3 linked regions of the Homo sapiens genome follow. The protein of the gene in region 3 purifies or fractionates together with the protein of the main gene of each other region. This does not show direct contact. Each region holds a gene or a part of one and is shown on either strand. Other genes may lie near its edges. The genes, in order: SLC12A7, AXL and TMEM204.

Region 1 (3,649 bases), on a different chromosome or scaffold from region 3:
ACCCTCGTGCCACGTGCCAACGGCCAAGAGCACAGGAGTGCCGCCCCCGACGTATAAGCCAGGCCTGTACGTGGAAAACAGTCTACACAGGGCCGTAGCGTCAAGCATCGGCAGGGGGTCTCAGGACGGGTCCCCGAGGGGGAGGGCAGCTGTGCTTCCCTAAAACGGGCTTGTGGGGTTGCAGCTGTTCTGCCTCCCTCTGTTTTGAGGCCTCTATGAGGCTGTTCCTTCAGGGGCTCCCTCCACGCAGAGACGGCAAAACCGCGGGAGCCTCAAGGGGCTTGGCTGCTGGCCCTTTCTGGACCTGCTCCCTGCGGGCTCTGGTGGCCACTCCCATGTTCCAGGACCCTGGGCCGCCTCCCAGCTGCTCCTCCAAAAGGACAAGAAAAGAGCCCCTCCAAGCACCTCTGGGAGGGAGAAGACACCCAGGCCCCAGCAGCAGCCAGGGCCACACCCATGACGCTCACTGCACCTGACCGTGCTCAGGGCCACCGGCCACCCCTGAAACCTGCCAGACCCCTCACCAGCCCTCCTGCCACTGAGGAGGGTCTTCATGCTCAGACCCGGCCACGAGGGTACCTCGGCCCACCTCACCGTTGGGTTTCCTGTAATCCCCAGAACGAGCCCACGGGGGTTCCCGCCACGGTCACACCCAGCCCACCCCTTGCGGGGAGCTCGGCGTCAAGGATGATGGACGAGAGGCGGGCAGAGCCCATGGGACCTGGCCCCAGCCCCACACCCACCCACGGCTCAGAGGCCCCGAGACTCACGGGATGTCCGGGGGGTCGAAGGCAGACTTGATGACGCCGGCATAGATGGCCAGGATGGACAGCACGACGCAGGCCAGGAAGACCAGCGCCAGCTTGTTGACATACTTGACGCCCACGAAGACCACCAGGGCCATGAGCACGAGCGTGCACGTGCCGTACACACGCATGTTGTGCAGCATGGCGGCCGCCTCGCCACCTGCAGCCTCCGCCTGGAAGATGGCCGCACCCGGGGAGATGTACGTCTGTGGGAACAAGGCCGGTCGGGAGGCCGTCCCCGGACACAACTCCCCAGTGCCCGTCCCTCCCGCAAGCCCCCAGCGCCACACAGGGGCCTCCTCCCAACAGGTGCCGGGGCCATCGGGACGCATCCGTGCTGGACGGAGCCCGCGGGGGTCAGCGCACAGGCAAGGGACGGAGCCCGCGGGGGTCAGCGCACAGGCGAGGGACGGAGCCCGCGGGGGTCAGCGCACAGGCGAGGGACGGAGCCCGCGGGGGTCAGCGCACAGGCCATGGACAGCCAGGGGCCTGAACGTTTCCCAGGAACCACCCGGGAGCCTTAGAGTAAAGCAACTTCAGGACCCGGGGCATCCGCATGTCCGCACTCAAAAGAAACACCTTCTGCTAAGAGGAATGTGACTGCTGCCCAGAGAGCTCGGCCCACCCCGGCTGGACGTCCTGGACACACACAGGGTCTGACCACGCCGGCGGGGGGCAACCTCTGTTCTGCCCAGATTCAAGGGAAGGGACGGAGACGTGAGACAGTGCTGCTCAGCTCCCTCAAGACCAGGACAGGACTGGGGTGCAGCAGGCATGGAGGGCATGGCACCCACCCCCACCAAAGGGGATCCTGGGAGTGCGGCAGCCACGGCACCCGGGGCAGGTGGAAAGATGGAGGGACATGGCCAGGGGACTCGGGTTGGGACGGGTGTGGGTGCGACCCCACTGAAAGGTTTCAGAACCTTCTTGGCCATGTGGCTCTCTTCAGGAACCCAGGAGGCCAGGAACCAGGTCTGGCAGCAGAGGGAGGGGCAGAAAGACTGGGGACAGGGGCTCAGGTGAGCGTCTCTGAAGCCCTGCAGGGACAGCGGGTTTCAGAACCTCAGCAGGAAGGACAGCACCCGTCGGCCAGAGAAGGGCGGTTCCCGTCCCCACGAGGACCAAGGAACTCAGGCCACAGCTCTCAGCTGTGCTCAGGTGATGTGGGACATGCTTTGAGCATGCCTGTTTTGAGAAGGTGATGACATCACCTGGTTGTACATTGCTGGGCTCTGGGACCCTCGGCCAAGTGCCCAGATCAGGCAGAGAAGAGGCTGGGATCCTGGCAAAAGGTTCTTCTAAGCCGAGTTCCAGCCCTGCTCCTAAAACAGCTCCGACTGCAGGACTGCACCTACGCGGGGCTCAGATCTACAGTCCAGATGTCTACCCAGCTCATGCCAGGCACGCCTCACGGAGGGCAGCAATGGTGCTCAAGGGGGACACAGGTCGCTGCTGAGTGGACGCTGCCCAGTGGCTTCCGCCATGGCCAGAGCCCAGGAGAGCCCAGGGGCAGCCAGGGCAGTGGGGTCAGGATGGCTCAGTGTGCTGTGTGTGCCACAGAGTGGGTCAGGCAGGGCCCCTTGGCATCCTGCCACAGACTGTGGGGTGGGAACCCTTCCAAAGCAGCACACTTACCAGAAAAATCTCGATGGTCCCCAAAATATACATGGCCCCTGCAAACGTCGTGCCCAGGTAGAAGCAGAGGCCGACAGCGCCTCCAAACTCGGGTCCCAGCGAGCGCGATATCATGTAGTAGGACCCGCCAGCTGCGGAGACAAAGGCGGCAGCCGCGGGTCAGGGGCGCACTTGGACTCGGACCCGAGGTGCGGTCTGCGCTGCCATTCACGGGCAAAGGAGGGCCTGTCTCTGCGAAGGCAGCGTGTAGACCCTCGTCCACCCGCAAAGCAGCACATGGAGACGCTTCCACGGTGAACTCTCCCCTCCCGAGGCTCGGCACACGTTCCACACCAAGAGCACGCGCTCTCATGGACATGAGGACCAGGTGAGATCAGGGATAAGGCTCTCTGGGGAGCAGGAGGCCCCAGCAGGTCCCAGAAAAAGTCCCGCGTACATCAGTGGCAGCCCCAGCCCCCACTTCCACTAAGTTTTGCTTATGAAAAAGGCAAAAGAGAAACTAGGATGTTCAGGAGTCGTCTCGTGTACTGTGAACCACGCACGCTATCACTGGCGGGAAAGCCGGGCGCAACCCCAGGGCTGCCTGGAGAACACAGCTCTCCCTGCTCTGAGCAGTGCGTGTGGCATGTGGAAGGGGTCCTAATGGACGCGGCCATCGTGAAGCAGAGACTGGTCCCTTGGCTGCGGAGGGAGACCCCTGGTGAAGGCCCTCGTGCTCTCCTGAGGCCGGGGAAGTCCGCTGAGCACCAAGCGATGCCCCCGTGGGGATGGGGACCAGCTGCGTGAGGACCTGGTGCTGAGCAAGCCCAGCCGTTAACACGCGCAGCACACATGCACTCAGAAGCAGACGTGGCAGCGTCTCCGTTCACTAGTTATTTCGTATCGTAATTCGTTTATTACTAATTAACAGTATCATCTCAGTTTACTAGTTATTACGTATTGTAATTAACTTATTACTAATTAATATCATCTCGGTTCACTAGTTATTTAGTTATTATGTATTGTAATTAACTTATTACTAATTAACAAGGTCAGGGCAGTGTTTTGTCTTCACCTTCCCTCGTGAGATACAGGTTCCAAGAACTCAGCCTATGGCACACGCTGGGCTACAGGAGCCACTGGAATCGCCCGTGCCTCCCCCTCCCCAGCCCGCTGCCTGGTGGGCACTGCCTACCCTGGCAAGAGACGGTCACCACGCAGCAAAATGG
Region 2 (3,649 bases), on a different chromosome or scaffold from region 3:
GCATGGAGTATCTGAGTACCAAGAGATTCATACACCGGGACCTGGCGGCCAGGAACTGCATGTGAGTGCCTTTCAGGGACCCCCCCCCCCCAACTGCTCCTGCACTCCCTGAGGGAGTTCCCTCCCTCCTTCTTAGGATGGAAGCAGGGCTAGACACCCGCTGAGGGCAGGTCAGAACTCAGGACCAGGAAAGTCAGTAAGGGGGTCTGGGAAGGCTTCCTGGAGGAGGTGAGTCCTGAACTGAGATCTGGAAGGAGCATTTGGATGCGGAGAGGGAAGAGACCAGAAGGTGGGCTCAGTGCACAGCATGAGGTGAGCAAAGGGGCTGAGGTGACCGATGGGGGTGGGGACACGTGAGCTGCATCTCTGTCCCACTCCATGCTGGGTGTCTTGCCTGGGGCTGCCCTTTGGAAGCGGCCACACTGGATAAGAAAATCAAACTCCCCACCAATGGACAAGCAGAAAATATGCCAGATGGGGTGCAGTGGCTCACGCCTGTAATCCCAGCACTTTGGGAGTCCGAGGCGGGTGGATCACTTGAGGCCAGGAGTTCGAGACCAGCCTTGGTGAAACCCCCTGTCTACTAAAAGTACAAAATTCAGCCTGGTGCGGTGGTGTGCGCCTGTAATCCCAACACGAGAATTGCTTGAACCCAGGAGGCGGAGGTTGCAATGAGCCGAGATCGCATCACTGCACTCCAGCCTGGGCGACAGAGCAAGACTCTGTCTCAAAAAAAAAAAAAAAAAGAAAGAAAGAAAGAAAGAAAGAAAAAAGAAAATAGTAACCTGTAGTCCCAGCCATTCCCAAGGCTTAGGTGAGAGGATTGCTTGAGCCTCGAGACCAGCCTGGGTAACAACAACGAGACACCATCTCAAAAAAAAAGAAAAAAAGAAAAGAAAGAACAAAAAATCCCCCAAAAGCCAGAATAGAGGGTAAGGGGAGGGTAGAAGGTGGAGGGAATGGAACCACAGAGTTAGAATATTAGTCTTGGCCAGGCGCAGTGGCTCACATCTATAATCCCAGCCCTTTGGGAGGCTGAGGCAGGAGGATCACTTGTACCCAGGAGTTCAAGACCAGCCTGGGCAACATAGTGAATCCTGTCTTTACAAAAAATAAATTAGCTGGGCATGGTGGTGTATACCTGTGGTTCCAGCTACTTGGGAGGCTGAGGTGGAAGGATTGCTAGAGCCCAGGAGGTTGAGGCTGAAGTCAGCCATGATGGTATCACTTCACTACTGCCTGGGCAACAGGGCAAGATCCCATCTAAAAAAAAATTGATGTATATTTTACATACACTAAAATATACACATGCAGCTCAGCTCGATGAATTTTTATGGGTATAGACCCATGTAACCACTAGATGAAGGTAAAGAATATTTCTTAGCCCCAGCAGGCTCCTTCATGCCTCTTCGTCTTCCCAATCACTACCGCCAAGTGGTACCCACTATCCTGACTTCTCAGTGCTAGTTTAGCCTGTTCTGAAAAGTCATACAAATGGGATCATGCAGTTTGTACTGCTTTGTGTCTGGCTTCTATGGCTCAGCATGATGTTTTTGAGATGGATCTGTGTAGGGGTAGTTTGCTCTTTTTCTTTGCTGTGTGGTATGGTATTCCATCATATGAATGTCCTGTGGATTTTCTTTTCTTTTTTTCTCTTTCTTTCTTTTTCTTTCTTTTCTTTCTTTTTCTCTCTGTCCTTTCTTCTTTCTTTTCTTTCTCTTTCTCTCTCTTTATCTCCTTCCTTCCTTCCTTCCCTCCCTCCCTCTCTCTTTCCCTTTCTTTCCCTTTTTTTCTTTCTTTTCTTTTTTGTTTTGACAGAGTCTTACTCTGTCCTTTAGGGTGGGGTGCAGTGGCATGATCATAGCTCACTGTAGCCTCCAACTCCTGGCTCAAGCTATCCTTCTGCCTCAGCCTCCTAAGTAGCTGGAACTACAGACATGTGCCACCATGTCCAGCTAATTTTTAAATTTTTTTGTAGAGACAGGGTCTTGCTTTGTTTTCCAGGCTGGTCTTGAACTCCTAGCCTCAAGTGATCCTCCCACCTTGGCCTCCCAAGGTGCTGAAATTACAGGCTTGAGCCACTGTGCCTGTTTTTTTTTTTGTTTGTTTTTGAGACGGAGTCTCACTCACTCTGTTGCCCAGGCTGGAGTGCAGTGGCGTGATCTCAGCTCACTGCAACCTCCGCCTACTGGGTTCAACTGATTCTCTTGCTTCAGCCTCCCAGGTAGCTGGGATTTCAGATGTGCACCAACACACCTGGCTAATTTTTGTACTTTTAGTAGAGACAGAGTTTCACCACATTGGCCAGGCTGGTCTCAAACTCCTGACCTCAAGTGATCCACCTGCCTTGGCCTCCCAGAGTGCTGGGATTACAGGCGCCAGCCACCATGCCCAGCCATGTTCTGTTTCTTAATCTGGGTGCTGGTTACATGGGTGTGTGTGTGTGTGTGTGTGAAAATTCAGTGAGCTGCTTACTTATGACTTGTGCACATTTCCATATGTACAGTATACTTCAAGAAAAAAAAATTTCATCAAGGAATCAAACCCAAGGAAGGACCTTAGAATCTAGCAAAGAGCCAAAATTGGGAAGTCCTGAGGAAGCCCTTTGTCCCATCCTCACTTGACAGAGTGAACAAGAAGTAAAGCAGTTCCCTTCTGGACTGGGATGAAGGTTTAGGAGACAGATCCCCACCCGCAGCCAGGACAGTGAGGGGAGGAGGTGCAGATGTGTCTGAGAGCCAGGGCAGGCTTCCTGGTGGAGGTGACTGATGCCCTGACCCTGTTCCTTTCCCCAATCCAAACAGGCTGAATGAGAACATGTCCGTGTGTGTGGCGGACTTCGGGCTCTCCAAGAAGATCTACAATGGGGACTACTACCGCCAGGGACGTATCGCCAAGATGCCAGTCAAGTGGATTGCCATTGAGAGTCTAGCTGACCGTGTCTACACCAGCAAGAGCGATGTGGTAGGTGCACTCCCGCCAAGAGTGGGGAACCATGGGAGGGCATGGCCTGACCATCACACACTATGCCTGGGTGGCTGTGGATGCAAGGGTCACAGGGACATGTGGGCTTCCCTTTGCAGGGGCTTGTCCACATGGGCTGGGCATGTCTTGGGGTATGGTGGGCATCTCTGAATAGTGGTGTGTACATGCCCAGGATAAATACAGGCCCACGTGTGCATGGTAGCAATGTAGACAGTTTAGGTTAGAAGAAGCTGCAGTGATTATGCGTGCATGTGCGCACACTCATAGAATGTGGACAGCCAGGGTGTGCAGAGTGGCACATGAGCTCATGTGTCCATGAAGTGTGTATATGTGTGTGATGGTGAGCATGTGTATGCATCCACAAAAGTTACTTATTCATGTGTATACCCGTGTCAAGTATTTTTTATATATATATATTTTTCTTTTTTTGAGATGGAGTCTCGCACTGTCACCCAGGCTGCAGTGCAATGGCATGATCTCAGCTCACTGCAGACTCTGCCTCCCGGGTTCAAGCAATTCTCCTGCCTCAGTCTCCCGAGTAGCTGGGATTACAGGCGCCCACCACCATGCCTAGCTAATTTTTGTATTTTTAGTAGAGACGGGGTTTCACTATATTGGCCAGGCTGGTCTCAAACTCCTGACCTCAGGCAGTCCGCCCACCTCA
Region 3 (2,850 bases):
GCCCCACTGCTGTCCCTCCGCCTGGCCTGCATGTTGACACCTGTGCGTCTGTTCATGCCGGTCTCTCCACTCCCAACCGCCTCCCCTGCATTCCCCAGGAAACCAAATCATGCCCTGCCCTGTGTGGCCCCAGCATCGAGAGAGGATGGGAGAAAAAGAGACACAGGGACAGAGACACAGAGACAGAGACACAGAGAGACAGGCAGAGACACAGAGAGACAGAGACCAAGAGAGATACAGAGAGACAGAGACAGACACAGAGACAGATGGAGACAGAGAGAGACAGAGACAGAGACACAGGGAAGGAGAGACAGAGAGCAAGAGATGGGTAACCAGCCTTGTTTTTCCTAAAAACCCAAGCATTATCTTTTCATCATCACTGTACCCTCCAGAAAGTATGAATTAAGCATTTATCTATCTCCATTTTGTCCTGAACAATGACAGTGACTGGTTTCTGTGTTCATTCTTTATAATACTTCATGGAGCTTCTTATACATGGGTAGCTCCTGGATACTTCTGTTTTATTAAAAATAACATTCTAGACAAGGCACAGTGGTTTACGCCTATAATCGCAGCACTTTGGGAGGCTGAGGCGGGTGGATCACGAGGTCACGAGTTCAAGACCAGCCTGGCCAAGATGGTGAAACCCTATCTCTACTAAAAATACAAAAAAAAAAAATTAGTGAGGTGTGGTGGCAGGCACCTGTAATCCCAGTTACTCAGGAGACTGAAGCAGAGAATTGCTTGAACCCAAGAGGCGGAGGTTGCAGTGAGCCGAGATCACGCCACTGCACTCCAGCCTTGGCGACAGAGCGAGACTCCATTTCAAAAAAAAAAAAAAAAAAGCATTCTCTTTGTAATGAATACTAACAAAGGAAACTTCTGGCATTTCTACCAGTGCGGAATGTGCCCTCTGCTCACGATTGTGTGGTATCGATGCTTGTGTTACTGGGGTGAAGGAATGAGCCTGTGTTGTGTGTGAGGAAAATGAGGGCACTTTGAACAGCGTCCACTCATGTTTACGGGGTCTGGCACTTTCTGCCGGTGGGGTGTGGGTTGTGCTGGTGTCAGGGCTCAGAGGAGGTGGTCCTGGAGGCAGGGCAGGCACAGCGGAGAGCTCAGGACACCCGAGACAGAGGCGAGCGGGAGGGGTGGGGCGCTCTTGGCAGGGACAGTGGGAGCCTTGGGGAGAGTCCCAGCCCAGCAGGGGGGCGATGCAAGCCCTGAGACCCTCGAGGGCGGGAGGAGGTTATACCGGCAGTAACTGGCCTTCATCAGGCTCCAGCCCGCCATGGCCACAGCCTGTTTCTCCCCCTCACCAGGCTTCCTTTCTACTTGCGGGTGTTACAGAAACGTGTTTAAAATCTCAGGGGGCCTCTAGTTCCACACATCATTCATCCGAATGGAACAGTGGAAAGGGATTGTGCCCCCCATGGCTTCCAGGGTCAACCTCCCTCACGGTCTGCGGTTGCCGTGGGGGTCAGTTTCCACACATAGGGGACCTGGAGGTACCGTCATTGCAGGGGGACAGCGCGGGCCACACGTCACCAGGGAGAGGCCCCGGGGACATCACCAGGGACACACCCGGGAGGCTTCTGAGTGCACAGCTCGGATTTACAGTGGCTTTCTAGGAAAACCTCGGGAAGAAAACTCTAAGGCAACACAGGGCAACCAGCCCGGGTGGGAGGTCCCGCAGAGTTGATCTTGCCGGATCTGCCGGACCACGCACGTGTGGTGTGGCCTCCTTTGTATAGGTAGCTCCCAACAAAACCCCGTAGAAGACTGAAGTGCCGCTGATCTTAGGCTCTTCCGTGAACAAGCATGTCCTGAAGTTGGGTTCGACAGTGAGGAATGTGCTGGACGTTTCAAGGTGTCTGCAGCAGTGCCGGGTGACCTTGCTGGGGATACTGATGCAGGCGGCCCTCCCTCCACCGCTGCACCCTGATCTGTATGAAACTCACATCCTGTCTCCCCAGCACTCAGCACCCTTGTGGCTCCCATCGCCTTAGGGTCTCCCCTGCTACCTGCGGCCGCCCTTCTGCCACCCTGGGGCCCAGTGGCCCTTTCCACCCCTCTCAGTCACTGGGTCCACCTACTCTGGGCTTCTCCTCGTGCCACTGTCCCCGGCTTGACTGGCCCTGGGGAGGAGGGGCCCCTCCTGCTGCTGATCCTTCGGGCCTCGGCTTAGAGTTGCACCTGCCCACCCCTGCCAGCCGTGGTCATTGTGTCTTTACCCATGGGTGGCTCTGGCCGCTCTCCCCCGCCACAGGGCAGGCTCCCCGGGGCCAGAACTTGCCCCACCATTGACCACAGCTTCCCAGAAGTCTCTCCGCAATTACTTTTTGAGTTAATCGTTTGAGGAGACCAAAGTAGACGTGAAACAGAACAGAATGCAGTGTGGAGCTGCGGGAAAGGCGAGGAGGAACAGCAGCCTTGGCAGTTGAGTGACCAGGACCCCTCAAAGGGACAGAGCCCTTTGGCCAGATCACGTAGATGCCGCTACCCTGGTGCCCTCGAATGCTCACGGAGGGGCAGCACGATTCCCAAGGACCCACTGGCATCGGCTACGTGGCCCTGTACTCAACAGGCCTGTTCAGCCTCCACTGGCACGCCGGGGACCACGCTAGGGTCAGCGTCAGCCACAGAGACGGCTAGGGCGCTCTTGACTTTCCTTGGGGAACTGGCATTCCTCTTAGAGAGATGGGGAAGTCATTAATCTCTGTGTCCCCAGAGGGTGGCATTTGGCAGGGCCTTGCCCTATGTGGAGGGTCAAGCTTGCAGGGAAGGCTCTCCAGACTCTAAATTAAAAGTGGGAAGGCTAAACCATGGAGCAAAGCACAGAGCGGGTAG

The links.
Region 1: the proteins of TMEM204 (region 3) and SLC12A7 purify together in Homo sapiens (affinity purification with mass spectrometry; one large-scale study listed by BioGRID and IntAct). This does not show direct contact.
Region 2: the proteins of TMEM204 (region 3) and AXL purify together in Homo sapiens (affinity purification with mass spectrometry; one large-scale study listed by BioGRID and IntAct). This does not show direct contact.

Annotation. Positions count from the first base shown.
Region 1 is NC_000005.10:1,084,462-1,088,110, forward strand, and holds part of SLC12A7 (solute carrier family 12 member 7), read right to left. Parts: intron 2,573-3,649; coding exon 2,442-2,572; intron 1,013-2,441; coding exon 771-1,012; intron 1-770. UniProt on the Homo sapiens protein: Mediates electroneutral potassium-chloride cotransport when activated by cell swelling. May mediate K(+) uptake into Deiters' cells in the cochlea and contribute to K(+) recycling in the inner ear.
Region 2 is NC_000019.10:41,253,648-41,257,296, forward strand, and holds part of AXL (tyrosine-protein kinase receptor UFO isoform 1 precursor), read left to right. Parts: coding exon 1-61; intron 62-2,804; coding exon 2,805-2,964; intron 2,965-3,649. UniProt on the Homo sapiens protein: Receptor tyrosine kinase that transduces signals from the extracellular matrix into the cytoplasm by binding growth factor GAS6 and which is thus regulating many physiological processes including cell survival, cell proliferation, migration and differentiation.
Region 3 is NC_000016.10:1,550,644-1,553,493, reverse strand, and holds part of TMEM204 (transmembrane protein 204), read right to left. Parts: intron 551-2,850; exon of another isoform or gene 1-550. UniProt on the Homo sapiens protein: Can influence paracellular permeability. Appears to be involved in cell-cell interactions through adherens.